Linked DNA regions of Homo sapiens. The protein of the gene in region 3 purifies or fractionates together with the protein of the main gene of each other region. This does not show direct contact. Each region holds a gene or a part of one and is shown on either strand. Other genes may lie near its edges. The genes, in order: STAU2, LRPPRC, IGF2BP1 and ELAVL1.

What was found.
Region 1: the proteins of IGF2BP1 (region 3) and STAU2 purify together in Homo sapiens (co-immunoprecipitation; 2 studies listed by BioGRID and IntAct, with this or other methods). This does not show direct contact.
Region 2: the proteins of IGF2BP1 (region 3) and LRPPRC purify together in Homo sapiens (co-immunoprecipitation; 2 studies listed by BioGRID and IntAct, with this or other methods). This does not show direct contact.
Region 4: the proteins of IGF2BP1 (region 3) and ELAVL1 purify together in Homo sapiens (co-immunoprecipitation; 3 studies listed by BioGRID and IntAct, with this or other methods). This does not show direct contact.

What each region holds. Positions count from the first base shown.
Region 1 is NC_000008.11:73,743,833-73,750,869, reverse strand, and holds the start of STAU2 (double-stranded RNA-binding protein Staufen homolog 2), read left to right. Parts: upstream 1-4,029; 5' UTR 4,030-4,087; intron 4,088-7,037. UniProt on the Homo sapiens protein: RNA-binding protein required for the microtubule-dependent transport of neuronal RNA from the cell body to the dendrite.
Region 2 is NC_000002.12:43,992,967-44,000,116, forward strand, and holds the start of LRPPRC (leucine-rich PPR motif-containing protein, mitochondrial precursor), read right to left. Parts: upstream 3,024-7,150; 5' UTR 2,982-3,023; coding exon 2,833-2,981; coding exon of another isoform or gene 2,808-2,832; intron 1-2,807. UniProt on the Homo sapiens protein: May play a role in RNA metabolism in both nuclei and mitochondria. In the nucleus binds to HNRPA1-associated poly(A) mRNAs and is part of nmRNP complexes at late stages of mRNA maturation which are possibly associated with nuclear mRNA export.
Region 3 is NC_000017.11:49,000,385-49,007,384, reverse strand, and holds part of IGF2BP1 (insulin-like growth factor 2 mRNA-binding protein 1), read right to left. Parts: exon of another isoform or gene 2,579-7,000; intron 1-2,578. UniProt on the Homo sapiens protein: RNA-binding factor that recruits target transcripts to cytoplasmic protein-RNA complexes (mRNPs). This transcript 'caging' into mRNPs allows mRNA transport and transient storage.
Region 4 is NC_000019.10:7,995,615-8,002,647, forward strand, and holds part of ELAVL1 (ELAV-like protein 1), read right to left. Parts: intron 6,591-7,033; exon of another isoform or gene 6,503-6,590; coding exon of another isoform or gene 6,438-6,502; intron 1-6,437. UniProt on the Homo sapiens protein: RNA-binding protein that binds to the 3'-UTR region of mRNAs and increases their stability.

The DNA.
Region 1 (7,037 bases), on a different chromosome or scaffold from region 3:
TAAAAAAATTCAGATATCATCAATAAAGGAGGGTAACTTCTATGGTGGGTGCTGGGGGCTAGATGAATTTTACAGGAAAATAAATGTCAAGAAAAGGGCATCATAATATAAGATATAATATAAGAAAGAAGAGGACATAGAAGGAAACTGGAGTTTGTGATTCTGGAATCTGTCCCATTCAAACTGCTCAAATCCGATAATGGTGAATTTGAAAGCATTATCTTTTTCCTGATGCTTGAACATTTCACTGCAATGGTGACTGGTAAAAATGTGTTGATAAAACAGACGCTTTTTAAAAAAAAATTTAATTTTAAATTTATTTTTAATTAAATGGAGGTGGGGTCTCACTTTACTGCCCACGCTGGTTTCAAACCCCTGGTTTCAAGAGATCCTCCCTCTTTGGCTTTTCAAAGTGCTGGGATTACAGGCATGAGCCACTGCGCCTGGCCTCATTTGCTTTAATCAGCTGCCTATTAATAGGCCCACTGTTCTTTATTTATTTATATTTTTTGATACAGGGTCTTTCTTTGTGGCCCTGGCTGGAGTGCAGTAGTGTGATCTCAGCTCACTCCAACCTCTGCCTCCCAGGCTCAAGTGATCCTCCCACCTCAGCCTCCTGAGTAGCTGGGACTACAAGCACGCACCACCACGCCCAGGTAGTTTTTCTAATTTTAGTAGAGATGGGGTTTTTGCCATTTTGCCCAGGCTGGTCTCGAACTCCTGACTTCAGGTGATACGCTAGCCTCCCAAAGTGCTGGGATTATAGACGTGAGCCACCACAGCCGGCTGGCCCACCGCTCTTTAAATATTCATTATTTTCAACTCCTATACAAATATTTTATTTTAAAGTAAATCCTAAAATGATTGTAGAGTGATGTGTGGATTTCCATGTCACTCAGGTGATTTCATGTACTGATACTATATACCTTGAGCAACTGAAAGTGCTGATTCAATTAAAAAACAATTTCCTTTCTGATAATTGTGACTTAGAAAAATTCATTCTATTTGGGGTTTACCAATGACTGAAAATCAGTTATGAGGAACAGTTACGGGAGGGATAAAGTTTTCAATTAACTTTAAGGATCTGAATCAAAGAGAATGAAATCTGACCACCCCAGAGTTCTTTCCAAAAGTATAAACTCATCCATTTATACCAAAGGATTTACCGTCCACCTACTTGCTGTTGGATGCTGGGACTACAGATATGCATGAGACACAGAGCCTGCCCTTCAACAATGCAATGTTTGGTAGATACAGACAGGCTAAAAAAAAAAATTCTAACATACCTACAATATCAGAGAAGAGAGGTACAAGAGAAGAGCACTCGCCTGCTCAGAGGAGTGTTAGAGAATGCCTCTCAAGGAGGTGATTTTTTTTCTTTTTTTTCTTGAGATGGAGTCTTGCTCTGCTGCCCAGGCTAGAGTGCAGTGGCTCGAACTCAGCTCACTGCAACCTCTGCCTCCCGAGTTCAAGCAATTCTCCTGCCTCAGCCTCCCAAGTAGCTGGGATTACAGGTGTGTGCCACCACGCCCAGCTAATTTTTGTATTTTTAGTAGAGATGGAGTTTCACCATGTTGGCCAGGCTGGTCTCAAACTCGTGACCTCGTGGTCTGCCCGCTTCGGCCTCCCGAAGTGCTGAGGTTACAGGTGTGAGCCACCACACCCGGCCAAGAAGGTGATTTTTGAATGCCGTGAAAGATTATTTGTTCACCAGGCGAGAGAAGGGTAGCCTGAAGGGAGAGAGAATAGCCTATGGAAAGACACAGAGGTAGGCAGCTTGACCCTTGGTATGGCTGGTGGGAAAGTAAGGTATTCATTCAAAATATTCAACAATTTCTGGTCAACTTCTTTCAGTCAATGATGGACAGGTGGACTGCATATACAACGGTGGTCCCATAAGATTATACAGTTCTTTAAGCCGGGCGCCTGCAATCCCAGCACTTTGGGAGGCCGAGGTGGTGGGGAGGGGCGGGGGGGGGGGGGGCCGGCGGGGAATCACTTGAGGTCAAGAGTTCGAGACCAGCGTGGCCAACATGGTCAAACCCCGTCTCTACTAAAAATACAAAAATTAGCTGGACGTGGTGGCATGTGCCTGTAATCCCAGCTACCAGGGAGGCTGAGGCAGGAAAATTGCTTGAACTCGGGAGGTGGAGGTTGCAGTGAGCTGAGATTGTGCTACTGCATTTCAGCCTGGGTGACAGAGCGAGACTTCGTCTCAAAAAAAAAAAAGATTATATAGTTCTTTTACTGTAGGTTTTCTGTTTAGGTACAAATACCCTTGTGTTGCAAAATTGCCTACAGTATTAGTACAGTAACACACTGTACAGGTTTGCAGCCTAGGCGCAATAGCTATATACCATATAGCCAAAGCAAGTAGTTGGCTAGACTACCTAGGTTTGCGTAAGAACACGCTATGATGTGCGCAAAACAACAAAAATCGCTTAATGACACGTTCCTCAGAACATATCCTTGTGGCTAGGTAAGGCATGACTGTATTAGAATGCTGACTGGGTGCGTAAGCCGCTAGAAGGAGCACAGCAAATTTAGGGAGGATGCAACATGTTAAATCCGAGGGAACTGGCAGAGGTGAAAAGGGGGGAAAGGAGCATAGGAAAGAGTTCTGGGAGGAAAAATATAGCTGTAGCTAACATTGTACCAGGAGAGGTACTACATACCCGGTCCTATTTAAAGGGCTTCATATGTATTGTCACATTTAAATACGAACTATCTATCACATGTAGTCTCCTCTTGATGCACAGGATAAGTAACATGCCCGTGGTCTCCTCACCAGTTAGCAAGCGGATATCCAGCCTTGGTTATCTGACTCTGGCGCCCTTGCGGTTAACCAGGACACACACTACCTTCCCAGGTGCAGACATGAGATTGGTTTTAGATGATGACTGAAATCACCGGCCTGGGAGACATTTCTCAGTCAGAGAAGTGACACTGGGAAGAAACCCTAGAAATAACGTTGCAAACGAGTAAGTTTGTGAAAACACACTAATAGTTCTATTTCGAAATTTCTTTGTCAGATTATTTTTGGTGCCGGTTACTAAACGAAGTGTTCAGTTTCATTGAGCTTAACTGGGTTGAAGTTATCTAGACAAAAGTAATCCACATCAAAACCAGGACGAATTAAGACGTAATTTCTGTTTTCTGGCACTCTTGCCTCATAAATCTAGGATTCAGGGCATTGTTTTCAATGGTTCTCATTTTTGGCTCCAAGGATTCTTTTTCATGTGACTAATATTTTCGGTAGAAGAGGAGGTCTGGCCACGCCGCGGGTCTTGGCGAGCAGGTGATCACGGATCCCTGGTGTTTGCTGGGCGAGACGGTGAAGCAACCTCCTCCCCGCCCCCTCCCCCGTCTAGAAAGGTGCAAGATCCGCTAAACCGTGCGTTGCACAGCGGCGGCCGGAGCAGACGCGGGATGGTCGCGCGTCCCCTGCACAGCACAGAGGGGCAGCCGGAGAGCCTGGGAAAGGTACGAGCGGGGAATCAGAGCACAGGGTGCGGACCAGAAAGAGCAGACGGTCAGTCGGGCGGGGAAGGAAGTTGCCGAGTTGCAGGTGTGGAAGGGGCTGCCCCAGGCCCACCCTTGGCAGACGAGGGGGCGGGGAGTCGCGCCGGGGACGAGGAGACTGCGGACCGGGCGCGCTCCTTGCGCAGTCGCTCGCCCGCGTGCCCAAGCCCCCCGGGAATGGCCCTCGCCCAGGGGCCCAGCTCGCCGCCGCTAGCCCCGCAGAGCCTGCAGCTGCTGGGGCCCGGCAGCCGCCAGGGGGCGGGAGCTGCGTCGCGAACAATGGCCGCGCTTGGTCGCGGGCCGGCGGGAGGCGGAGTGGAGGTAGAGCCGGTGCCGGGCGCGCGCGCCGGCCGGGCGTGCTGGGGCGCGGGAGCGGCTGCGCAGGCGGGGGCGCGCGGCGCGAGCGCGGGAGGGCGCGGCGGGAGCGCCGGGGAGGCGGGCGGAGGCGGGCGGAGGCGGGGGGCGGGGAGCCCGAGGGGTGGAAGCCGGCGGCGGCCGAGCGGGGTCAGTTCTCTGTAGTGTTTGCCAATGTTGGAGCCGTCTGCAAAGTGTCCCCGGCAAGAAGGTAAATACCCTCATCGGGGGCGTCCGGGAGACCCCGACTTCCGCGCCGCCGGCGAAGAAGGCAGAGGGCGCTGGGGAGCCCTGCAGTTCCGCAGCACGGGGAACCCGGAGAAAAGCAGCCCCCTTCGCGGCCTCCCCTCCCCCGCGCCTTCCCTCCCACATCGGGCTCTCGGGGCAGCAGCGGGGAGGGGAGACCGGCGGGGGAGGGAGGACAGGGAGGCGAAGGAATTGGGGTGGGGGGTGCGTGTGTGGTGGAGGGGGTGGGACGACACAGGTGTCCTGAGGGGAGGAGCCGGGAGGAAGGCGAGGAGGCCGGGCCAAGTGGGGGTGCGGAGGTCGGGGAGACAGGAACGCGGCTGCGGGCGCGGGAGGCTGGGGTTCTAGGGGGCCGGGGTGGTAGCGGCCGGAAGAGAGGACGGCGAGTGCAGCCACGGTGTGGCTGCGAGGGAGAGGGAGCGCCTAGAGTAGGGCAGGGGAGGGCGGCCCGGGGAGGGTCTGCGGGAAATGGGCCTGGGGGCGCTGGAGGCGGAGCGGCGGGGCCGGGGCGCGCCGGAGGGTGGCGGCGGCAGCTATTTCTGTAGAATGGGCTAGTGGTAAAGACGTAACTTGCCGAAATGGGGAGGGTAGGTGGGGCCGAGGGGACAAAATATATCCTATGACAGGCAAGTTCTGCTGTGGCTGTTACGAACTCCTACCGTGATGGCTCGGCTTAAAGGGGTAGTTGGCGGTAGTGACCTTGCCGGGGTGAAGGGAGTTGGGCGAGGAGACAAAGCTCAGTTACGGAATCCGCTGTGTGAGAGCAGGAACTCTAGTCTCTTCGGGGTCGAGCCGGGGGCTGTGGCTTGGGGGCTGGGGGTGCTCCGCAGAGGCCATTGAGAAGCACGCCACTCTGGGATTCTTAGGGAGGCGGTGGGGGTAATGGCCGTGGGATTCTGGAAGTCTTTGGAAATGTGTGTAGAATTTTGCATTTGTGAATAATTTTCTTTGGTAAGGGTCCATATTTGCTGTGATGTCCCCTTACCCCCATCCCCACTCCAAAGGGTTAAGAACTGCTTGAGCAGATAGAGAGGGACCATTCAATTAGGGTAGACCTGGGAATTTACCAAAGGATTTTAAAGTGGGTGGATCCTGCAGAAAGAAAGGCTAGAGATGATCCTTTAAAGATATTTTACTGTTAATTGAAAACGTTTTTTATTTAATGTTTGCTTTCACAATTTTGGTGAACTTTTGCTGAGCATTACTTGGCTTCTGATGCATCCTGTGTTTCAGACCAGCATCGTGAATACTTGAAATCAAAATTGTGATGGACAGGCAGGGTGATAGTAACCTTGGAGGAGAAAAGATTTCAACATTTCTCCAGGATATTTCTTCCCCGTCCTTGCTTTCTTTAGATGATTCAAGTACACTGTTGTGAACTCAGCTGCGGTGGAAAAATCTTATTTAATAAAACTACCAAAACCAAGACTTACTCTCCATCTCTGTTTTGTAGTATGGCCAGATTTTCATTGTTCAGTTTGTATCTTACTGCAAACAAGAGATATCACATAACACTTTAATTGTAGATTGCTGCATTTTGCAGCAGGCCTGTATTAAATTTGCGAAGCAGTTATGCCAAACTATCTGGTGTGTTTGTGTTTTCCTGCTATGGTTTCAAGTCAAGTCACTATTGCCATATTTTATTATATGGTAGGCTAGTCTGAAATTTATTCCTAAGTGATGATAAGTTGGTAGGATATGGTACATACTTGCTCACAAATTACTGCATTTTTCCCCATAAAAACCAGTGTTTTGTATTTGTAAGAATGTTGCTGTGTAATCCAAGTATGTATTGTTAATTTCAAATAAAATGCTGTGTAATTTTTAAATTTTAACTTTATTTGGAAATAATTTCAAGCTTACAGACAAATGGCAAGAATAAGAATAATACAAAGAAAATCTTTGTAACCTTTATTCAGATTCACCTGTTAACATTTTATGTATTTATTATTTGCTCTCTATCACACACAAAATATTTTTCCCCTGGACCATTTAAGGGTAAGTTACATACATTGTGATCCTTAACTCCTAAATACTTGAGCTTGGAAAACCATGCAAATTTTACATTTTAGCTTACTTGGCTTGTCTGGAATGAAGTGCTAGGAAGAGTGGCTTGGTTTGCTTTTCAACAAATAGTATGAATATAAAAAAAATCTAAGATAGTCATCAAGCTTTTAAATATACAAACAATCCAGAAATCGAGGCAGAGCGGTTTTCCTGTTTAGGTTCTAGAAGATATGGTAGGTTTTTTTTTTTTTTTCCTTTGTGCCTACCCTTCTCTTTATTCCTATTATTATCTTGTTTTGTGCACGTTCAGTGCTGGGAATCTGATCATTTATAGGTACAGATCATAATAAAGAGGGAAAACTCTAGATACTGCAAAATTGAATTCTCTTAGACTGCATAGTTTGAGACACGCACAGTATGATTATTCACATATAGATATATTTGTGCCTCTTATAGGTACACAAAATACTAGATGTCTAGAATCAGTAATAATTATCATTTTTATTTATGTGTGCATCGTTTGATTTTAAATAATCCTCCCCAAGTTCTATATAGGAGCTTTGCCATTATGTTGTCCTAGAGGTCAAGCCCTTGACTTTGTTCCAGGAAAAATTATAAGAAGGCAAATCTTTTATTTTTCACCAAGCTGATCATAGAAAATAAAAAAAATTGGCCAGGTGGGGTGGCTCATGCCTGTAATCCCAGCACTTTGGGAGGCCGAGGCAGGTGGATCAGGAGGTCAGGAGTTCGAGACCAGCCTGGCCAACATGGTGAAACCCCGTCTCTACTAAAAATACAAAAATTAGCTGGGTGTGGTGGTGCGCGCCTGTAATCCCAGCTACTCGGGAGGCTGAGGCAGGAGAATCGCTTGAACCCGGGAGGCAGAGGTTGCAGTGAGCTGAGATGGC
Region 2 (7,150 bases), on a different chromosome or scaffold from region 3:
ACACAGAAGGACCACGAGTAAAACTACCAAGAACATCAGCATTTAATAGGTGAACAGAAGCAAGAGGAATCAAGCAAATGAGACAAATCCTAAAGAGAAGAGAACCTAGAAAAATGGTGTCATCAATACCAAGAAAAGTGTCTCATGAAGGGGAAAATGGAAGACAGAGTAATATGCCAGGTCAAGGCCTAAAAAGTGGATTTGGTAATTAAAAGAGGTCCTTTCAAAAAGTTAAATAAACATACATCTTACACATACATAAGTCATTAGAAGGACAGCTATCAATGAATGGCTCTCTGGTTGACATAATTAAGGGTGATTTTTAGTTTATTGTTCCCACCACCCAGGTTTTGCAACTGTCCCTCGAGGCACCTTAAGGAATAATTTTTGCAACTGTTCTTCAAGGCACTTTTGAAATAATTTTTCAAAAATACAATAAAAAAATCAATAAGATAATAATGGCCTTTGACAGCGGTGTGACTGCAGTGGATAGGAAAGTGAATGAAAAGTGATGAAATTAAAGGGACAGAGAAGTATGGACAGGGAAGAGACTGAGAAACTTCTAGAGTAAACAGAGTTCCAGGAAAGGTTCTGTGTTTCACGTGGGCAAGATCTGGGCATGCTTACAGGATGTCGGGTAGGAGACTATATACAGTGCTCAGAGTCCAGGAAAAAGAGGGAACAATCACTTCTTTATTGCCTGCTGTCACCTGAACACACAGTGGTGAACAAGACAAAGTCCTGCTCTCATATAGCTTACCTTCTACTAAAGAAAAAAAAAAAAACCAGAGAAATAAGTAATGATATCAGACAAGTGAGGTGTGCCACGAATAAATCTACAGTGGGACCGGCATGTTTTGGATTGAGTGTTGAGGTAAGGCTTCCCTGAAGAGACATTTGAGATCTGAATGATAAGAAAGCAACTTTACAAAGATAAGGGGGAAAGGCCTTTACAGATAATGAAACTGAGGAACAGACAGGTTAGTAAGATGGCTGAGATTACGCAGTAAGTAAACAGAACCCAGGTCTGATGAACACCGAGACCACCCTTTCTACTAAACTATGTTCTCTCTTTATTCAGTTCTCCTCAAATGCAACAGTGAAGATAAAAGAAAATGTGGACCTTCCCCTGGCCTCACAGAAATGCTGAGGATTAGAAAAATAAGAGTAATGGGCACAACTTTCTCAAAAGAAACTCTGAAAGCCAAGAGATGTATATAGTTCTGTGCTCAGAGGCATGATTTCGGAAAGTTAACTGTTCAAGCCCAATAAGAAAATATAGGCAGACTCCAAATTACAAGTACGCTCCATTCCAAAGATTATAACTAAGTTGTTAAGAAATCATAAATTATTTCCTCCACGTAATTTTATGGCGAGATTAGGTGTTCAGGCTGGTCCATGAAGGTCCGCATAACCGTAGATATTATGACTCCTGTAGTAACCAACAAAGCACTTACTAGGCATCAGGCCCTATACTAAGTGCTTAATACAGATAATTCTGCAATATTCCTAACACTACTACTACTCCCACCTTATAGCTAAGGAAGCTGAGGCCTGGAGATGTTAAGTAACTTCTCTAATGGCATAATGCAGATAATTTGAGGATAAAATGCAGATAAATCTGGAGTAGGCTGCAGTCTGGGCCCAGCCTACTGCAGATCCCTGGCTCTCAGTCCTTACGCGAGCTCTCAAAGTACCTTAATTTACAAGCATCAGTCTTTCAAAATCATTTTTTCTCCAATGCTAAAAGCTCAGCACCTATCTCCCCTTCTCTGGTGGTCAGAATACTATTAATAACCAAATGAACACTTTCACCAACTTTTCTTTTCCCCTCCACTACAAAAGTCTATACCAAACCTATCTCTGATAAACCTCAAACCATGAGAGCATTTATTCGCCTATCTGACACCCACTTAGAGTTTAACTTGCCTTTGCATCCCCAGATTCCAACAGAGTGCCTTGCATGTGCTCATTCATTCAAAGACACTTACAGGACGGGAGCGGTGGCTCACACCTGTAATCCCAGCACTTTGGGAGGCCGAGGCAGGAGGATCGCTTGAAGTCAGGAGTTCGAGACTAGCGTGGCCAACATGGTGAAACCCAGTCTCTACTAAAAGTACAAAAGTTAGCCTGGCATGGTGGCGCACACCTGTAATCCCAGCTACTCGGGAGGCTGAGGCAGGAGAATCGCTTGAACCCGGGAAGCGGAAGTTGCAGTGAGCTGAGATCGCGCCACTGCACTCCAGCCCAACTCGCGCAACACCTTCTTAAATGCTGAAGGAAAACTCCATTCAAGAGAACGCAGGCAAAAGCCCAAAGTGATCATAATCCAGCGTCCAGCTTTAAGTCATCCGTGGCTCACCCAAACTCCCAACCCACTCCTCGCCGCCCCATCCCTCGCAAAAAGCTAAATTTCCAATATCTAAATGCTAGGTGGTTACTGATCACCAACGGTGACCGCACGTGGGACACCACCCAAGCTGGCCAAGTGTAAGGAAAAGACCACCACCCGACTTCCCAAAGCAGTCTTCAAAGCCCCCCTCATCTTCGTTGACCATGGGTACCCCGAGGGCAGTAAGGTCCAGGCTGAAGTGGCGGGGGCAGGATTCAAGCCGGAGGCAGGCCATGCCCACAGCCGTGACCTTCTGAAGGCGCTTAACCCTGTCACCCGAAAACCCCTGGTAGGGAGCGTGGTGCGGAGCCCGGGGAGGCTAGGTCCTGGGGCGGGGAGAAGGGTGGCGAGCACAGGCAGGACCCGGTCCCTGCCGGCACCCACGACCCCGGGGGACCCTGGCGCCGCAGCTTGCCTGGAGAAAGGGCCTGGGCACTCACCCGGCCACGGGCCCGGCGCGAGCGGCGGGCAGATAGGAGGCGGCATGCAGCCGGCCCGGGCCGCCAGGGAGGAGGCGCAGGGAGAGCGGGAGGCGCGGGGCCGCCCCGGCACGCAGCAACCAACGCGCGGATCTCAGCAGGGCTGCCATTGCTCGAACGTCCCCGCAGCGGGAAGCACGCTCCGCCAGAAGGACAGGAGGAGCATGTGACCGCAGGGTAGCCTGGCGCGGCAGAGACCAACTGCCGGGCGTGCCAAATGTGGGGGGAGCGACGGATTGTTTTAGGTTGGAAGATGGAAAACCGCACTTCTCCGAGGACAGAAGACCCAATGTAATATTTACATAAACGATGTTGCTTGATTCATTATCGAAGCTTTTCTTTTCCGTCTTCCGTCTCCGATCTGGGCATCGTGTTCATTCGCTGCACCCCTGCACTCCTCTGTTGGTAGAGCCGCAAGAGGTCAACTCCTCCCAGGTTGGCGCAGAGGCTTGTGGGAGGCCAACTAGTAAAAATACCGAGAACTCTCGAGGAGAGCCGACTATGAAGATCCCAGGACGTGGGAAGGTTTCCCCCGCCCCCGAGTGCAGATGTTGCTGCTAACGTTCAGCCCTGACGCCATGTCCAATAGGAACGGCCCTTCACTCTCAGAAACGCGGGCCGGAGAAACCGTGGAGGTCTTTTGCACCTTGCCGTTTGCCTCCCAGGTTCAACATGATAGGATGTGGATTATCAGGGCCTGGGAACAGTGTAAAGGAACGCGCAGGTCCCCACCCTAAGCGCGTACGCGGGGCCTCGCTTTAGAAAATAAATGAATTCTACCAAAAATCCTATAGTTTTAAAGCTGGAATTGAACTGACTCTCTTCCCCAACCCTCCACCCCTACCGCGCCTCTCCCTTCAGTAAATGCACATATACATGTGAGAAGTAAAAGAACAATGTAATTAAGAGTCTCCAGCCAAATATGGGGAGAAAACTGGCAAGTTAAACCCATCGCTGGCGAAGTGGCTCACGCCTGTAATCCCATCACTTTGGAAGGCCGAGGCGGGTGGATCACCTGAGGTCAGGAGTTGGAGACCAGCCTGGCCAACATGGTGAAACCCCATCTGTACTAAAAATACAAAAAATTAGCCGGGCGTGGTGGCGGGCGCCTGTAATCTCAGCTACTCGGGAGGCTGAGGCAGGAGAATTGCTTGAACCCGAGAGGTGGAGGTTGCAGTGAGCCAAGATGGCGCCATTGCACTCCAGCCTGGGTGACACAGCGAGACTCTGTCTAAAACAAAACAAAAAAACCACGTCGCTGCCTTCACAGGGCTTACAGACTGGATCGGTTCCCTGTGCACACGTGGGAAGCTGAGAACAGCCTTCCACTCCCTCTACACCTGCCTGTCCCCTACCTATCACGAGGCAAACGCGGCGGGTATTTCCTCTGGAAGCCCTCCCACGGTCATTTCCGAAGTGACTGTTTATCCCACTGGACTCCTTATCAGTTAATCCCACGAACTCCTTATCAGTAGGGACTGTGATCTCTTATTGTAGGCCATACACCTACCCAGTGCCAGACACACAGTAGGTCTCATTAAATATGTGTTAAATTAATGTCTATTTTGAGATGACCTAGCTCACCTCTCCTTTGAGAGATGAGGGAACGAAGACACCCGCTCCAAGCCCCCAAAAGAAACAAGGTGAATTGATTGACTCTGGGTTATATTACTGAGCACTGGGAATACAAGTTATTCACCTATTCAACACGTATTTATTGAATACATATCCAGTGCCATACACTATTTGAAATCCTAGGAATACAGCAGAGAACAAAACAAACCAACCCTAGATTCTAATTAAGCTCTTTAAAGTTTAATTTGGGAAGACAAAAAGAACTGTGATGCAAAATACGCCAGGGTAAAGGGATTGAGGGTGTCATGGGGGGAGTTGCTTTTTTTTTTTTTTTCTCAAGACAGGGTCTTGCTCTGTCACCCAGGCTGGAGAGCAATGGCACGATCTTGGCTCACTGCAGCCTCGACGTCTGGGCTCAAGCGATCCTCCCACCTCAGCCTCCTGAGTAGCCGGGATTACAGGCCCAAGCCCTGGCTAATTTTTGTATTTTTAGTAGATACGGGTTTTTGCCGTGTTGCCCAGGCTGGTCTCAAACTCATGGCCTCAAGCAATCTGCCTGCCTCGTCTCCCAAAGTGCTGGGATTACAGACATGAGCCACGACGCCCGGAGAGTTGATATTTTAAATAGGAAAAACGTTGAACAGAAACCTGAAGGAAGGAAAGGAGGAAGCCAGGAGAATTTTCTGGAAGGAGAAAAAAAAAAAGAGTGGTTAAGGCTTAGAGAACAGCAAACACCAAAACCCAGAGGCAATAATAGGTGTAGCCTATTCAGAGAACTTTAAGGAGGAGGACTGTGTGGATGAGAGAAAAGAGCAGGGGGTAGAGAGCAGGGGGTAGGAGTAGAGGAAGGAGCAGGGGGTGGAGAGGGGCCTGGAGGTCAGAGAGGTAGTTGGAGGCCATATCAAACAGGGTGTTGTAGGTGGCCGTGAAGACTGACTTTTATTTAGACTGAAGACTTTTACTTAGAATGAGATGAGAAACCATTGGATAGTTTGGTGTGTTGCTTTTAAAGAGATGGAGTCTTGCTGTGTTGCCCAGGCTAGAGTGCAGTGTCTATTCACAGGTGCAATTATGACACACTACAGCCTTGAACTCCTGGGCTCAAGCAATCCTCCTACCCTGGCCTCCCAAGGAAGTGGGACTACAGGTGCATGCCACCACACCCTTTTGCTTTTTTTTTTTTTTTTTAAGTGCAGTGGCACAATCTAGGCTCACAGCAACCTCTGCCTCCCCGGGTCCACGCGATTCTCATGCCTTAGCCTCCCAAGTAGCTAAGATTACACGCATGAACCACCACACCCAGTTAATTTTGTATTTTTAGTAGAGATGGGGTTTCACCATTTTGGCTAAGCTGGTCTCTAACTCCTGGCCTCAAGTGATTTACCCACCTCAGCCTCCCTAAGTGCCGGGATTATAGGCGTGAGCCACGGCACCCAGCCACCCATTTGCATTTTGAAAGGGTCACTCTATCTGCTGTTTGGAAAGGAGATTTTAGGGGAATGGGGATAAATAAAAATAGACCAAAGAGAAGGCTAATCCAGAATAGAGATGCTAGTGGCTTGGATTAGAGGGCAGCAGGTGAAATGATGAGAAAGGGTCAGGTTCTTACTCTATTTAAATAGTAGAACCAAGGGGATTTACTGATGGATTGGCTGTGGATTGTAAGTCAAGAACGGCTCCAAAGGTTTTGGCCTAAACAACTAGAAAGATGGAGATGACTCTGATTTAAAAGGAGAAAACAAAGAGAAGCAGATTTAAAAAGTGAAATCAAAAATGATCTTCTAGAATATTAAGCTTGTGCCTGCTAGACATCCAAGCGTCAAATTTGAATAGGGGTTGGCTATATGACATACAAGTCAGTTCAGGGGAAAAGTCAGAGCTAAAGATACATTTGGGAATCTGCAGCTTGTACCTAATATTTGAAGCCACAGAAATAGATGAAAGCATCTAGGAAGAAAATGCAGATAGACAAGAGAGGGAGTCCAAGGACTGAGGCTTGTGTCATTTCAATCTTTAGAGGATGTATAGATGAAAATCTAGCAAAGGAAACTGAGAAAGAAGAGCCAGAGAGGCAGGAGAACTGAGCCCAGTGAGGTCACAAATACCTGAATGAAAGAAGTCCTTCCAGGAAGGAATTATCAATCACATACAATGCTACTGTTAGTTCCAATACAATGAGCATGCAACATTGACCATAGAATTTGTTGTTTGTTTGTTTGTTGAGAATGAGTCTTACTCTGTCGACCAGGCTGGAGTGCAGTGGCGTGATCTCAGCTCACTGCAACTTACGCCTCCTAGGTTCAAGCAATTCTCCTGCCTCAGCCTCCCAAGTAGCCGGAACTACAAACACGCACCACTATGCCTGGCTAATTTTTGTATTTTTAGCAGAGACAGGGTTTCACCATGTTGGCCAGTCTGGTCTCGAACTCCCGACCTCAGGTGATCTGCCCGCCTTGGCCTCCCAAATTGCTGGGATTACAGGCATGAGCCACCGCGCCCAGCCAATTATTGCTAATTTTCTAAGGCATGATAATGGCTTTGTGGTTACGTAAGAAAAAATATGTTTAGAGATGCATGTTGGCACTGGAATATGTAGAAGTAAATTAACATGATGTCTGGAATTGTCTTTTTTCTTTTTTTTTTTTTTTTTAATGAGGCGAAGTCTTGCTCTGTTGCCCAAGCTGGAGTGCAGTGGCGCCATCTC
Region 3 (7,000 bases):
AGAAGTGGGCATAAAGGTGGGTTCTGAGTGCATCTCTGGGAACTGGTTCCAGACCAGGGAACCAGGGGGAGAATGTGAGGACACTACAGAAGCAGAAGAAGTAGGGAACAATGTGTGCAGTCACCCCCTGGGTATCTAGGGATCCCCAGTTCCTGAATGCCTACTTTGTTAGCTTACCAAGAGCAGGACATGAAAATGAACATACCCATCCCAGCAGATGGGGGAGGTCACTCTCATTTCTTCCTTCCTCAGACCCCCAGGAGGATTCTTACAGTCCCCTTCATCCTGAATTCTTACAACACCTACCTTATATGCAGAGTTAGTTCCCCTCTCACCAATGTCCCTACTCTACATGTACACCTTTGACAGTAGCCGTAAAGTGTGAAATTTCAGCTAGGAACCTGGACCAAGTTCAGGGCATAAACGATAACAGAATAAATGGCCTGTTTCCCCTAAAGAACAATTAATAGCATTATCCACCATGCTCGCCTCATCTCTCCAAGCCTCTGTCTCAGAGAATGTACTGGGGGAATCTATAATCTAGGGGCTCTGTGGGGTTGCCCTGGTGAGCTTCATCTCTCTCCACTAAAAGGTGGCTTTTCCTTTCAACATACAGGTAGAGTTACCAAAGCACCCTACGCACAGATCCCCTTCAACATGCCTAGCCATCACTGTTCCTAGTGCCTTAGATATATAGCCCAAGCTGACACACACACAGTTCAAAGACAACCTCTCATGGACACATTTTCAGGCATCTGTACACTTGATCAGTTCTAATACTCATGGAGCTAACCACAGCTATATGGGGCAGGGTAGGATACAACTGTAAAGCTTCAAAGGAGGACAAACAATGGCTAGGGCAGGAGGGACAGAAGTCAATATCTACAACAAAATAATAACAATAAGAGCTATTGTGTACTACTATTAGGACCACTTCTTTACAGTTACGGAAATTGAGCTCAAGCTTTTAAACACTGAATTCTCCTGGGAGGAAGACCTTTCCTCCAGACCCCAGTAAAGGATGAGTGAGAGACCTAGGGTAGGTCATTAAGACTCTGACCTAACAGCACTTCTTCCCTCCTGGAGCCTTAAGAATTTTGAATGATTCCTTTCCTCCTTGTTCCTCTTTGCCAAAGAGGTCAGACCACACAAACAACCATTACACACATATTTCTGAATTCTCTGATTTCTCCCCTTAAAGATCCTAACTATATCCAATCAACTAAACTAAACTATCCAATCAAATTTCACTCAGACTTAACATTTTCCATTTCAAGTGGCCAAAACATCCAAATGAGTGATTGAGTTGGTTTTTGTTTTTGTTTGAGACACAGTCTCGCTGTTACCCAAGCTGGAGTGCAGTGGTGCGATCTCGGCTCACTGCAACCTCCACCTCTCAGATTTAAGCAATTCTCTGGCCTCAGCCTCCCGAGTAGCTGGGACTACAGGCATGCACCACCACACCTGGCTAATTTTTGTATTTTTAGTACAGGCAGGGTTTCACCATGTCGGCCAAGCTGGTCTTGAACTCCTGGCCTCATGTAATCTGCCCTATTCGGCCTCCAGAAGTGCTAGGATTGCAGATGTGAGCCACCGTGCCTGTCCTGAATGAGTGATTGAGTTTTTAACCAAAATTAACTCAAAATGAAAAAAAAAAAATTTGAAGTTCTCCTTAACCTTCTTTTCATAAGGAAATGTAGAGAGGATTGACTAGAATCCACTAACCAGACATGGTAGAAAGGGAAAGAGAAAATGTAGAGCTTCCCCTCTTCTCCTGCCTCCTCTATTATGGGATTTTTCTCCACAACCCTCCTCTAAACTATAAGCAAAATTTCCAGCCATCCCATATCAGACACCATCCCTTACATGCCTTCCAGCCACCAAAATGCCACTTGTCTAATAACCAGACTTGTCCTAAGGGGTCTTGAAAATATCTGCACAATCCACTCAAAACTTCTCTTAATCATCGAGCTGTTTGCTCTCTATTTCAGTCAAAAGCAGTTTGCTTACGACCAGCCATGCTCCTGGGAACCTGGATTTCCCAAAATGCAAAAGGACTGCATTTCTGATGGTGTTTGTTCTGCACACAGTTACATTTCAGTGTGTTGCAATCAGGTTTTTTCCAACTGTATTAAAAGTATGAGGTCCAAACCTACTTTTCTGTGACTTACCTGTAATCAACATATATTTTGTCAGTCAACTATGGTTAGAGCAAAAGTTTGTTCCAGCCTGTTGTATTATTGCAAACCTACTGTGCTGCAAGGTAGTAAGCAGGTCTTACAAAGCAGGCTCTGCAATAAATTTTAATAGTAGGATGACCCCCCTTCTATCCAGTAATAAGTACATAGTCTCCTCTGATCAAAATCTGAAGGGCCATCCAAGTTCTCCTAGTAGAATGAAGTCACTACCTGGGGACTACGTAGCTTCCTGCTGGCATTGCCTCCTTGCCCTTGCGATGGTGTGTGTCAGGTGGTATCTTACAGGATCATTTTTAACCAAACTATCGGTAACCAAATGGGCATACACTTTCTTGAGTACAGGTTTGAGAGACCTTTCCTTCTGCTTTTTGTTTTGACAGGCATTTAAAAAGGTATAGGGGAGGAGAGGAAAGGTGGAAATGGATGGGGTGCAGAAGTTTTACACTAACATGGAGTCGAAGACTGGCTGAGACCCTGGACAACTGGAAGGCCTGTTGTCTCTCTTTTACAAGATAAACAAAATCCATGGATAGAACCTCTGACTACTATTACTGCCTCTGTTATTGTTTCGGTCAGCCTTCAGGACCTGTGGACAGACACAAACAGCTCATTTTGTAAAGATTGCAGGTTACTTAAATTGACACTTAACTCTTTAAGGTTCTATTTCTCAGGCCAAGACCCCAGCTACTGGGAGAGAGGAACAGCTACTTGCACTTCCATTTTCTCTCCAACTGTCTCATCCTATTTTCCCTTTACCTACTCTTCCTCTCTTCTTGCCTCTTTTCACTTCACATTTACCCACTGGCTTTTTGCCTTAGAATGGAGAGCTCCTGAGGCAGCCCAGGTGCTGGAAAGGGTCTGCAGCCCGCAGCCCGCAGCCGGTGAGGGGGAACCCTCTCGTGGGGTATCTGCTGCGAGGTTTGCGATCTGGGGTTCCCAGGACTAAGGCGCACCACAAGCGGCCTGGGATCTCCTGGGGTCTCAGGGATCTGAGAGGGGAAGTCCTCCTCGGAGACCCAGGCCAGCGGATGTTCTCTGTCAGGGGCTTGTTAAGAGAAGGCAGGCGGGCGGCCCCACCTCAGAGCGAGACGAGATTGCCGGGCTGGGACTGGCGCGGGGGCGGGCGGGGAAGGTTAGGGCCGCCGGGCCGGGGCGAGCGCTCCAGGAAGAGCCTGCAGCGCCGCCGCCACTTTCTCTCTCTCTACTCTCTCTCTTTTTTGAAAGGGGAAGGGAAGGCCGGCAACTCCAAAAGCAAATATAGCCTTGCCCTGAGCTGAGTCTACCACCCGTCTCCGACCCCTCTCCCGTGGGTAACACTGTGAGACTCCAGCCGCTCCCCTTTAAAAGGGAAGCGGGAAATCCACCCAACCCCGTATCTCCCCTCCCTCCCTCTCTCCCTCCCCCCTCCCCGTCTGGAATTTCCAAGCCGGGACTAACTCGTCTGATTTCTCCAGTCTCCCCCTGCTGCTTTTTTCCTCCCCTTTTCTCTCCCTAACACTCCCATCCCAAATTCTAAGCTGCACTTTCTGGAAAACATTAGCCACATTTCAAGAATCTTTTAAGAGGATAGGGAACGAACCACACTTATTTTAAATTCTAACAGCTGGGAAAATGTCCGTTCTTCAAATGCCTTTGGTTCATAAACTTATTCTAACAACCCCATCACCACCACTACCACCCCACACACAAAAATCAACAGATCTAACCACTAAATAACTCTTCACAAAACCTTTAAACTTCAACAAATAGCACTTGCTGTTCCCCACTTCTCACTCAACTAAACCAGATCTGAATTTTAAAATGTTTTAAAATTGTATACTCAGTAGACTACCTCAATAGTATCTTTGTCAACTGGCTGCTACACATTAAAGTATAGTATAAATACACTCTTAAAAAGTAAGCCTTAAAAGTACCCACACACATAGATTAAAATGATACATATTAAGGTAATTTTAAAAGATTAGAAGCTCAGAACCTTTGAATCAAGGTTCTTCCAATTGCTAATGTCATGTATTTAATCTCTGAAACATAATTATGTTTTTTTCCACCAAAAGCTGTGCCATTAAAACTTTACCTTTTCAACAATTAACAATACTTTGAATAAATTAGTGATGGGACTTGCAGTTCTTCCCCCTTTTTACTAAAAAGTTCTCCATCTGAGAAACCATTATGGTAAAATTTCATCTTTTTAATTTGGGTCAGAAAATAAGGGGTTCTAGAAACCTACAATTCTTCTAAGGGACAGTCAGTTGCCACTGCCCTTACAAAACTCTCATCTTGAAATACTGACCACCCAAATGAGAACAGTTAAGGATTTCTACCAGCAGTGAAGGAAACTAATTTATGAATTTGCAAAGTTTAATTTTTAGGTGGAAATTAAAATAGGGAAAGAATGTACCCCAGTTTCCACCTTTCCTCCAAACAGTGCACAAAAACTTAACATTCAACCATTTTTTTCACTTATGTAAAGCAAAAAAAAAAAAAAAATTCTAACCTAATATTAATAAGAAAACCTTTTTAAAAGAGTAATCAATTGTTTCTACTTTAAACTTCCATGTTGAATAGTAGTCACATGTTATCTTTTACCTCGTATGAGTTAAAAACTTTCTTTTTGACTTGGATACTAATTCATAATTACAACCATTAAAGTAAAAGTGCCTGAAAACCCTCCCGCTCTAGTAGTTTTCATTCCCTTTTTAACCCCTCTTCATTCATTTTCAGCCCCAAAGTACAAGGTAGGTTTTCTTTTTTCCTTAAGTGCAAATCCATTTCTGAAGACAATTTTTAGGTTGTTTTGAAAACATTTAGTGATCCAAGTGATTTCTTCAGAGCCTCAACAAATCATTGTTAAAATATATTTAAAATATTTTTTGCCATTTATAAGACATCCCTTCACAGATTTTTAAAGCTGTTAACTTCAAAAAATTAAACTGTAAAATTTGGACACTTTCTTTTGGGAGTTCTCAATTTTATGAACGATTTATAAAACTAATTTTGTTTAATAGGTACTTAAGGGAGTTAGCCCACCTCATTTTTAGTCAACATAGAGGAAAAGGACCATTAATCTGCCTAAAGAAATCACCAAACTTAGAATTCTTTAATGTGAACACATTTCACCTTTAAAAAAAATGAGTCAGTGCATCTCTTTCATTTTTTTCTTAATTAACAGTAACACCTTTTATTTTGATGACACCAGTTGACAGTGAATATGCTATCTTTAGGTCACATTCCTCTAGAAAAAGGCACACCACAGTGGCAAGTGTAACAAAGGTTTAATTCCCTTAAAAAGCAAATCATGTCTCAAAGTAATCAAGTCACACTAAAATGGTACCCCCTTTACCTCAACTACTCCTAAGTCTCTCAGAATAAAACATATACAAGCCCTTTCCACAACTGTTTTTAAATGCATTTGGTTTTTCTCTTTTGTCTCAGTATCTGGCAGTGAACATATACAAATTCTCAACAAAAAAGCACAAATTGTTAACCAAATTCCAACACTAAGGGGGTTTGAGATGGTGATCTCTAAGAAATTAGTATCACCTCATTTTAAAAATTCAAGCTAACTGCTGTTTTCAGTTGAAATGCATAGTGTTCGGCCTCTTGAGTTCTTAAAAAGGTACAAATTATATGTATCAAATAAATTCAAACTAAGAACAAAATACATTAAGAGGTATTGCTACAGCATATCTTTTGTTTGATTTCCCCCTCTTAAAAAACAAAACAAAACAACCAGGAACATTTAGTTGTTGGGTTTTTATGAATTATTTTAGAAATTGAAATCATAGTTCATTTGGAACTGAATGCCTCAAGAAGAGTTCATAAGGAAAATACAAGAGTATATATACACAAAATATTATTTGTATAGTTGTTCATTTTGCTTAGAATATATTAGTCATAATTAACTAGTTCCTGTTCTATACATCCATGAGATGGAAAGTCAGTAACAAACCTAACTGACGAAATACTTTTCAGACACAGACTAAAGACACATACCACAACATACTTCCTCAAAGACACAAAATGATAGAGCAAACTGACTTAATGAAAACAAACTTTCTTTTTTAAATCTTGAGACTTCAAAAATTGATTCATTCTAGAAAAATGAAGTGCCTTCTCACCACCAACCAAAATAAAAAGCAAAGAAAACACAACTGACTCAATGTTTGGGCTAAAAAAATTATTTCAGGAAGGGGAGAACACATAAAAGATCTAATTTAATATGGGTGTGGACAGATTTTTTTTTTTTACCCAGTCTTCTCACAAACCCCCTCTCCATTCCAACTCAAAAAAGAGCCCTCAGTAATGCATTTTGGAGGGAAAAAGGGCCTAGAAATGACTTAAAAGCAAGCAGATGGCTTGGGGAAAAAGATTCATAAATACAGGGCACCATGAAAATTAAAATATAAATGTTTTGAGTTCCATTTCATCACGTTTTGCTATTTCTCTTGCTTTTCACTTTATTCCCTAAAATTTAAACCATCCTCAAGAGCAAAAGAAAAAATCCACATATTTTAGAATTCCACTTATTCTGGATATTTTTCATCAACACTCAGCTTTCAGTTCAAATATCCATATCCTTTTCAATAAACCTGCTGGTGTCAGTGTATGTTCCTTAGACACATCTCCAGAAAATGTTTCAAAATAACAAATAAGACTTCTTTTCTTCCTTCCCATTTTATTGCCTCTTTACTCCTAACTCTAATTGCCTTTCCAATAACACGGTATTTCAAACATGTGAAGTTAAATCGCAAGCTCTATAAACATAGTAACAAGCCATATTGATCTATAGACACAATAGTTCC
Region 4 (7,033 bases), on a different chromosome or scaffold from region 3:
CCGTATGGCCAAAAAAGCTGAGAATATTTACCATCTGGCTCTTCACACAAAAAAAATCTGCCGACCTCTGTTTTAAAATGTAAAAACATAAAATTTCTTGGAGAAAAATCTTTGTGGCATTGGGCTGGGGAAAGATTTCTCAGACACAACACCAAAAGCCCACTTCGTTAAAAAAAAAAAAAAATGGATAAACTGGATATCATCAAAATTTGAAACTTTTGCTCTGTGAAAGATACTGCTAGGAGAATTAAAATCCACCAACTGGAGTAAACATTTGCAAAAGGGACTTGTAGTCAGAACACTTTTTTTTTTTTTTGAGTCAAAGTCTCACTCCACTGCCCAGGCTGAAGTGCAATGCCATAATCATAGCTCACTGCAGCCACAAACTCTTGGGTTCAAGCAATCCTCCTGCCTCAGCCTTCTGGCTAATTTTTTATTTTTTGTCGAGATAGGGTCTCACTATGTTGCCCACGCTGGTCTTGAATTCCTGGTGTCAAGTGATCCTCCCATCTTGGCCTCTCAAAGTATTAGAATTATAGGCGTAAGCCACCTCACCCAACCCAGAACCCTTTTTTTTTTTTTTTTGAAATGGAGTCTTGCTCTGTCACCCAGGCTGGAGTGCAGTGGCATGATCTCCGCTCACTGCAAGCTCCACCTCCCGGGTTCATGCCATTCTCCTGCCTCAGCCTCCCAAGTAGCTGGGACTACAGGCGCCCGCCACCATGCCCAGCTAATTTTTTGTATTTTTAGTAGAGACGGGGTTTCACCGTGTTAGCCAGGATGGTCTCCATCTCCTGACCTCGTGATCTGCCCATCTGCCCACCTCGGCCTCCCAAAGTGCTGGGATTACAGGCGTGAGCCACCACGCCTGGCCCAGAACACTTTTTTTTAAGCTCTCAAAACAGAAGCAGGCTAGTGTGCTGGCTCATGCCTGGAATTCCAGCACTTTGGGAGGCCGAGGTGGGTGGATCACCTGAGGTCAGGAGTTTGAGACCAGTCCGGCCAACATGGTGAAACCCCATCTCTACAAAAATACAACAAAAAAAAAATTAGCAAGGCGTGGTGGTGGGCATCTGTAATCTCAGTTACTGGGGAGGCTGAGGCAGGAGAATCGCTTGAACCTGGGAGGCAGAGGTTGCAATGAGCCGAGATGGCGCCACTGTACTCCAAACTGGGCGATAGGGCCAGACTCCATCTCCAAAAACCAAAAACAACATAATGAGCAAACAACCTGGTTTCAAAAATGGCAAAAGATTTGAACAGATACTATACCAAAGAATATATATGGATGGCAGACAGGCACATGAAAAGATGCTCAACATCATTAGTCAAATTAAAACCACATCGAGACACCGCTACCCACTTATTAGAATGGCTAAAGCAAAATAAAACAAAAAACAACCAACAGCAACAAAACAGACAATGTCAAGTGCTGGCAGGGATGTGGAGAAGCCAGAATATTCATGCACTGCTGGTGGGAATGCAAAAATGTGAAATGTGACAGCCACTTTGGAAAACAGATTGGCAGTTTCTTATGGTGAAATATACACTTAGCATGGGATCCAGCAATCCTACTCCTAGTATTAAGGCAATAGAAAGGAAAATCTATATTCACACAAAAATCTGTATATAAATGTGCAGAGCGGCATTATTCATAATCATCCAAAACTACAACAACCCAAATATTCTTCAAGCCATTCATGGATAAACTGGGATACACCATACAACAGAATACCACCTGGCAATAAAAGGTATCACCAATTCATGCTACTTGTGTGAATCTCAAACACATCTTGCCACATCATTTCTGTGCCTTCCTGGAAAAGGCAAAACCATAGGGATGGATCTGTGGTCGCTGGGGTTAGGGAGTGAGGGGAAAAGTCGATTACACAGGGACAGGAGGAGGGAGTATTTCTGTTTGTGGGAGAGCGAACTTTCCAATCTTTATTATGGTGGTAATCAAACAACTTTATCCGTTTGTCAAAACTCAGAGAACTCTACTCGAAAAAATGAATTTTCCTACATGCAAATTTAAAAATAAATTGTCTGAGTGTGGCGACTCATGCCTTTAATCCCAGCGCTTTCAGAGGCCAAGGTGGGAGGACTGCTTAAGCCTGGAGTTCAAGACCAGCCTGGGCAGCACAGAGAGATGCCATCATTACAAAAAAAAAAAAAATTAAAAATTACCCAGGAATGGTGATGCACACCTGTATGCAATCCCAGCTAATCGGGGGGCTCAGCTGGGAGGATCACTAGAGCCTGGGAGGTCAATACTGCAGTTAGCTATGATTGTGCCACTGCAGTCCAGCGTGGGCGACAGAGTGAGATCCTGCCTCAAAAACAACAACAAAACCACAATAAAAATAAATTTTAAAAGGTTTAAAAAGAGAACTTCTGCTTTGCGGCCCTGTTCCTCCTGACACTCTGAGTCAAGGCTGAGCAGCCCCTGCAGGTCAAGTTCTTGGTCAACTAGTAACACGGGAGAAACCAACAACCTGCCCTGCAAAGCAGTTTCATGACGTTTCTGGGCCCCCACCCCACTCTCTGGAGGCCCTTCCCTTGACCTTCTCCAAATCTGCATCATCAATCCTGGGCCAAATCAGCTTCTATCCCACAAGCTCCAACCACAACTGGGCCTTGTCACCACTCAATTATCACTGACTCCCAAGTCGTAGCCACTTCTGTCTCTCGAGGTGCAAGGCCTGCACTGTCCTGCAATCAAGATGCTCACCCCTCTGGTATTCCCTGTCAGTGGTCACCACCCATTGAGGCTCGGCGGTCACACGATGATGCTCACGGTCAGGCATGCCATTAATAAGTGGCAGGGCCAGGCCTCAAGTTGTCATGACAATGCAACTGTCAAACTGGCAAGGCCCTTCACAATCGGACCCAGGTGGTTCTCCAGCCTCAGTCGCCACCCTCCCTTCCCGCTCACTCCAGCTTCTTGCCAATATGCTACAGGCCTCTGCTTTGGCTGTTCCCTCTGCAGGGCACTAGTGTCCTCTCCTTCACTTCCCAGCTCATTTTTTAAAATTAGTATTTTTTTTTAAAGAGATGGGGGTCTCTCTTTGTTGCCCAGGCTGGTCTTGAACTCCCAAGCTCAAGTGATCCTCCTACTTTGGCCTCCCAAAGTGCTGGAATTGCAGGTGTGAGCCACCATGCCTGGCCTCCCAGCTCACTTCTATTTTTACTTATTTTTCTTTTGAGAAAGGGTCTTGCTCTGCTGCCAAACTAGAGTGCAGTGGCATAATCACGGCTCACTGCAGCCTCAAACTGCCTCAGTTTCCCAAGTAGCTGGGACTACTGGTGTGTGCCACCATACCTGGCTGATTTTTAAATTTTTTTAGAGACAGGGGTCTCATTTTGTTGCCCATGCTGGCTTCAAGTCATCCTCCCACCTGGGCCTCCCAAAGTGCTGGGATTATAGGTGAGAGCCACTACACCAGGCTGGCTCATCTTTAAAAAGCTACCTTCCTGGCCTGGCGTGGTGGCTTATGCCTGTAATCCCAGCAATGTGGGAGGCCGAGGTAGGCGGATCACCTGAGGTCAGGAGTTTGAGACCAGCATGGCCAACATAGTGAAACCCTGTCTATACTGAAAATACAAAAATTAGCTGGGCGTGATGGTGCATGCCTGTAGTACCAGCTACTCAGGAGGCTGAGACAGCAGACTCACTTGAACGCGGGAGGCAGAGGTTGCAGTGAGTCAAAATCACGCCACTGCACTCCAGCCTGGGCAACAGAGTGAGACTGTCTCAAAAAAATAAAAAATAAAAGGCCACCTTCCCCCAGGACAACAGGTTACTTACTCTAGTTCTCAGTGCCTCCATGCCATTGCTGTAAACCTTTGTTACTGTCCCAACCACTCCTATCATTATTTGCCTTACACTCAATGACCAATGTCAGTGGTGAGAACCTTGAGGGCCCAGGTTATACCATTGCCATCTAAGAGTCCCCAGGCAAAGCCAGGGTGTGTCACACAGCAGTACAGGAGGCTGCTGGCTCTCAGACCAGGCTGGAGTGCAGAGGCATGATCACGGCTCACTGCAGCCCCGGCCTCCTAGGCTCAGGTGATCCTCCCACCTAAGCCTCCCAAGTACCTAGGACTGCAGGTGCGTGTCACTACGTAGTCCTACTAAGTCCTCTATGTAGTTCTGTCTAAGCTTTTTTATGTTTTGCAGAGAGGGGGGTCTTGCTTTGTCACCCAGGCTGGAGTGCAGTGGTGCGATCTTGGCTCACTGCAACCTCCGCCTCCTAGGTTCAAGTGATTCTCCGGCTTCAGCCTCCCGAGTAGCTGAGATTACAGGCACCTGCCACCACGCCCGGCTAATTTTTGTATTTTTAGTAGAGACAGGGTTTCACTACGTTGGCCAGGCTGCTCTGGCACTCCTGACCTCAGGTGATCCACCCGCCTTGGCCTCCCAAAGTGCTGGGATTACAAGCATGAGCCACCACGCTTGGCCGCTTTTTTATGTTTTGTAGAGGCGGGGGCGGGGGGGTGTCTCGCCATGTTGTTCAGGCTGGTCTTTAACTCCTGACGTCAAGTGATCCTCCTACCTCAGCCTCCCAAGCACTGGGCTTAGAGGTGAGAGTCACCGTCGGTGCCTGGCCTCTGGGAGAAGTCTTGTTTGGATGATCTCTGAAGGTTTTTGACTCCAATGCACTATTTTAAACAATCCTGGTTGTCTATGTGACATCAGTGATGTTGTTCACATCCGTCGATCATCTAGCGCATATCCAGGGGAGAGAGATGTGTGTGTCTTTATGTGTGACAGAAAAAGAGTGAAGCAGTGAGGCTGCTTTCCACCAGGCAAGCATGAGAATCACTTTCATTGCACCATGACGGAGCAGGTATTCTAAACCACTTGAGCCAGAGCAAAACTAGAACAGTCAAATCTATCTTCAGGCTCAATCTTGACACTTCACACATCATCTGACAGGGCTTGGACCCAATAATGTTTAAGGTCCTTTCCAGATGCAACATTCTGAGTCTTCCAGGTAAAAAAGGCTTAGGTCATTCAGGAAATGCTCTGCTGCCAGAAAAAACCCAAAGCACCACCTGACCCAGTTATAAATGCCATGCAAGGCAAGGTCTCAGGTGGACATGGCACCAGCTTCTTCCAAGCCCCTGCCCATGGCCCACAGAAGGGCAGGATGCCTGGCTGGAGCAGCTCCAGCTAAGTGACAATTCCCTTTCAGCCAGGCTGAGAAGCCCGGGGCAGGAGCAGGTCAGGTGTGGCTGGCCTGTGGCCCAGTCCAGGCACCCCACAGCCCTGCTAAGGGCTCTGGCTTCTTTCTGGCTGGTCAAGGCCAAAGGCCACTGCAGGGATCTCACACAGAAGTGCAAAGCAACAGGGCATGGCAGGAAAAAACCCTGAGCTCTGGAGCCTGGCAGGCCCGAGCTGGGCACTAAGTCTCCTGCTCATCAGCTGAACTACTGTGCAGAAGTCGCTCCCCTTCCCAGAGCTTCAGCTTCCTCCACTGGGGATGTCACCCCTTGCTCCACAGTGCCTGGTACAGTGAGTACCTGTCTCTAGTCCCACTTCATGAACAAAATCAAGGCGAATGTATGTCTCCCCAACCTCCCTGTCTGCAGCTACAAACACCTTCATCTCCTCTCCTCCTGTCCTTGCCCTCTCTTCAAACCGCCTCCGCCCCCTGAATTACTTCATTTGGTGGCATAGCCCCACCTGTCCCCCAAGCCACCTCTCTCTAGCCCTTGGACCTAATCAAGCACCATGTCCTGCCAGTTTGACATGTGAGATCTCTCACCGTCCTGCCACCTCTCTGCCACCATCCCTATTCAGATTCCTGTCACCTCCTGCTAGACCGACTCCTAAGTGGGATTGCAAACTCAGTGTCTCTAAACCCAGCTTCATCTTCTTCCTCCTAGTCACTCCCCTTCCTTGAGTCTGCCTGTTTCTGTTCATGGTGACATGAGTCTGGCCATCGAGCTGTTCAGGATTGTTCCCTCTCCTGTGATTCCTTCCCCTGACATAAACGTCTCACTCTTAAAAAAAATTTTTTTTTTTTTTAGAGATGGGATCTCGCTATGTTGCCCAGGCTGGTCTTGAACTCCTGGCCTTGAGCAATCTTCCACCTTGGCCTCCCAAGCTGTTGGGGTTACAGGTGTGAGCCACTACACCCAGCCACAGATGTCTGTTTGACAGGTACCTGGATCCAGTCGCTTCTGAGTAGTCTGCCAATCTTTCCTTTCCCTGGCACAGACAAAATATCAACCACGTGCCAGGCACAGAGCAAAGCATCAGGCATACAAAATATAGAAGCAGTCCCAGTCCTGACCCTCAAGCGGTTCAGCCATTACGGGGCCACCTCAGTACTGCAACAGCCTGTGACTGGTTTCTCCTTGTCTCCCCCCAGCCTCTCCACCAGGGTGAGCAGTGAACTAAAACTGCTCAGTAGCCACCCCTGGCCTACCTGCAGGGTAACAGCCAAGCCCTCTGCCCAGTGGACACCTGAGCACTCCTGCCACCACTACCCATCTCAGCCTTCTTGTCCCTAAAGAACCCACGTGGTTCTTTGAACACACGATGTTCTCTGAACACTGCGATGTTCCCACCTCCGGGCTTGGCTGTATCCTAAAAAGCCCCACCCTATTGTCTTTGCCTGGTTAGCTCCTCCCCACCGCTACTGCCTCCTCTCCTCCAGGAAGCATTCTGGGCTCTCCTGTGCCCACCCAGGTCCCTTTTCTGGGCTTCCACATCAGCCAGGGCATAATTCTCACAGCACTCATCAGAGTGGGCTGAGATGACCTACACACATCATGCACACTCTCCAGAGCCTAGCGGGGGCCCAGGACACAGCAGCGGAGCAGGGAGAGTCGTTCAGAGGAGGGAGCGAGCCTCACTTCCCTCCCACAGGCTGGCTTCCGTTGGTCTTCCCCTGACCCACAGCTCGGGTCGGCCGCACCGCCTCGCTACTGCCACCTAGGGGCGCCAGCCGGGCGCTGCGCTTCTCTCGCCATTCAGCCTTGAATTCGATTCAATAAACTGAATGGGATGGGAACACTAAGG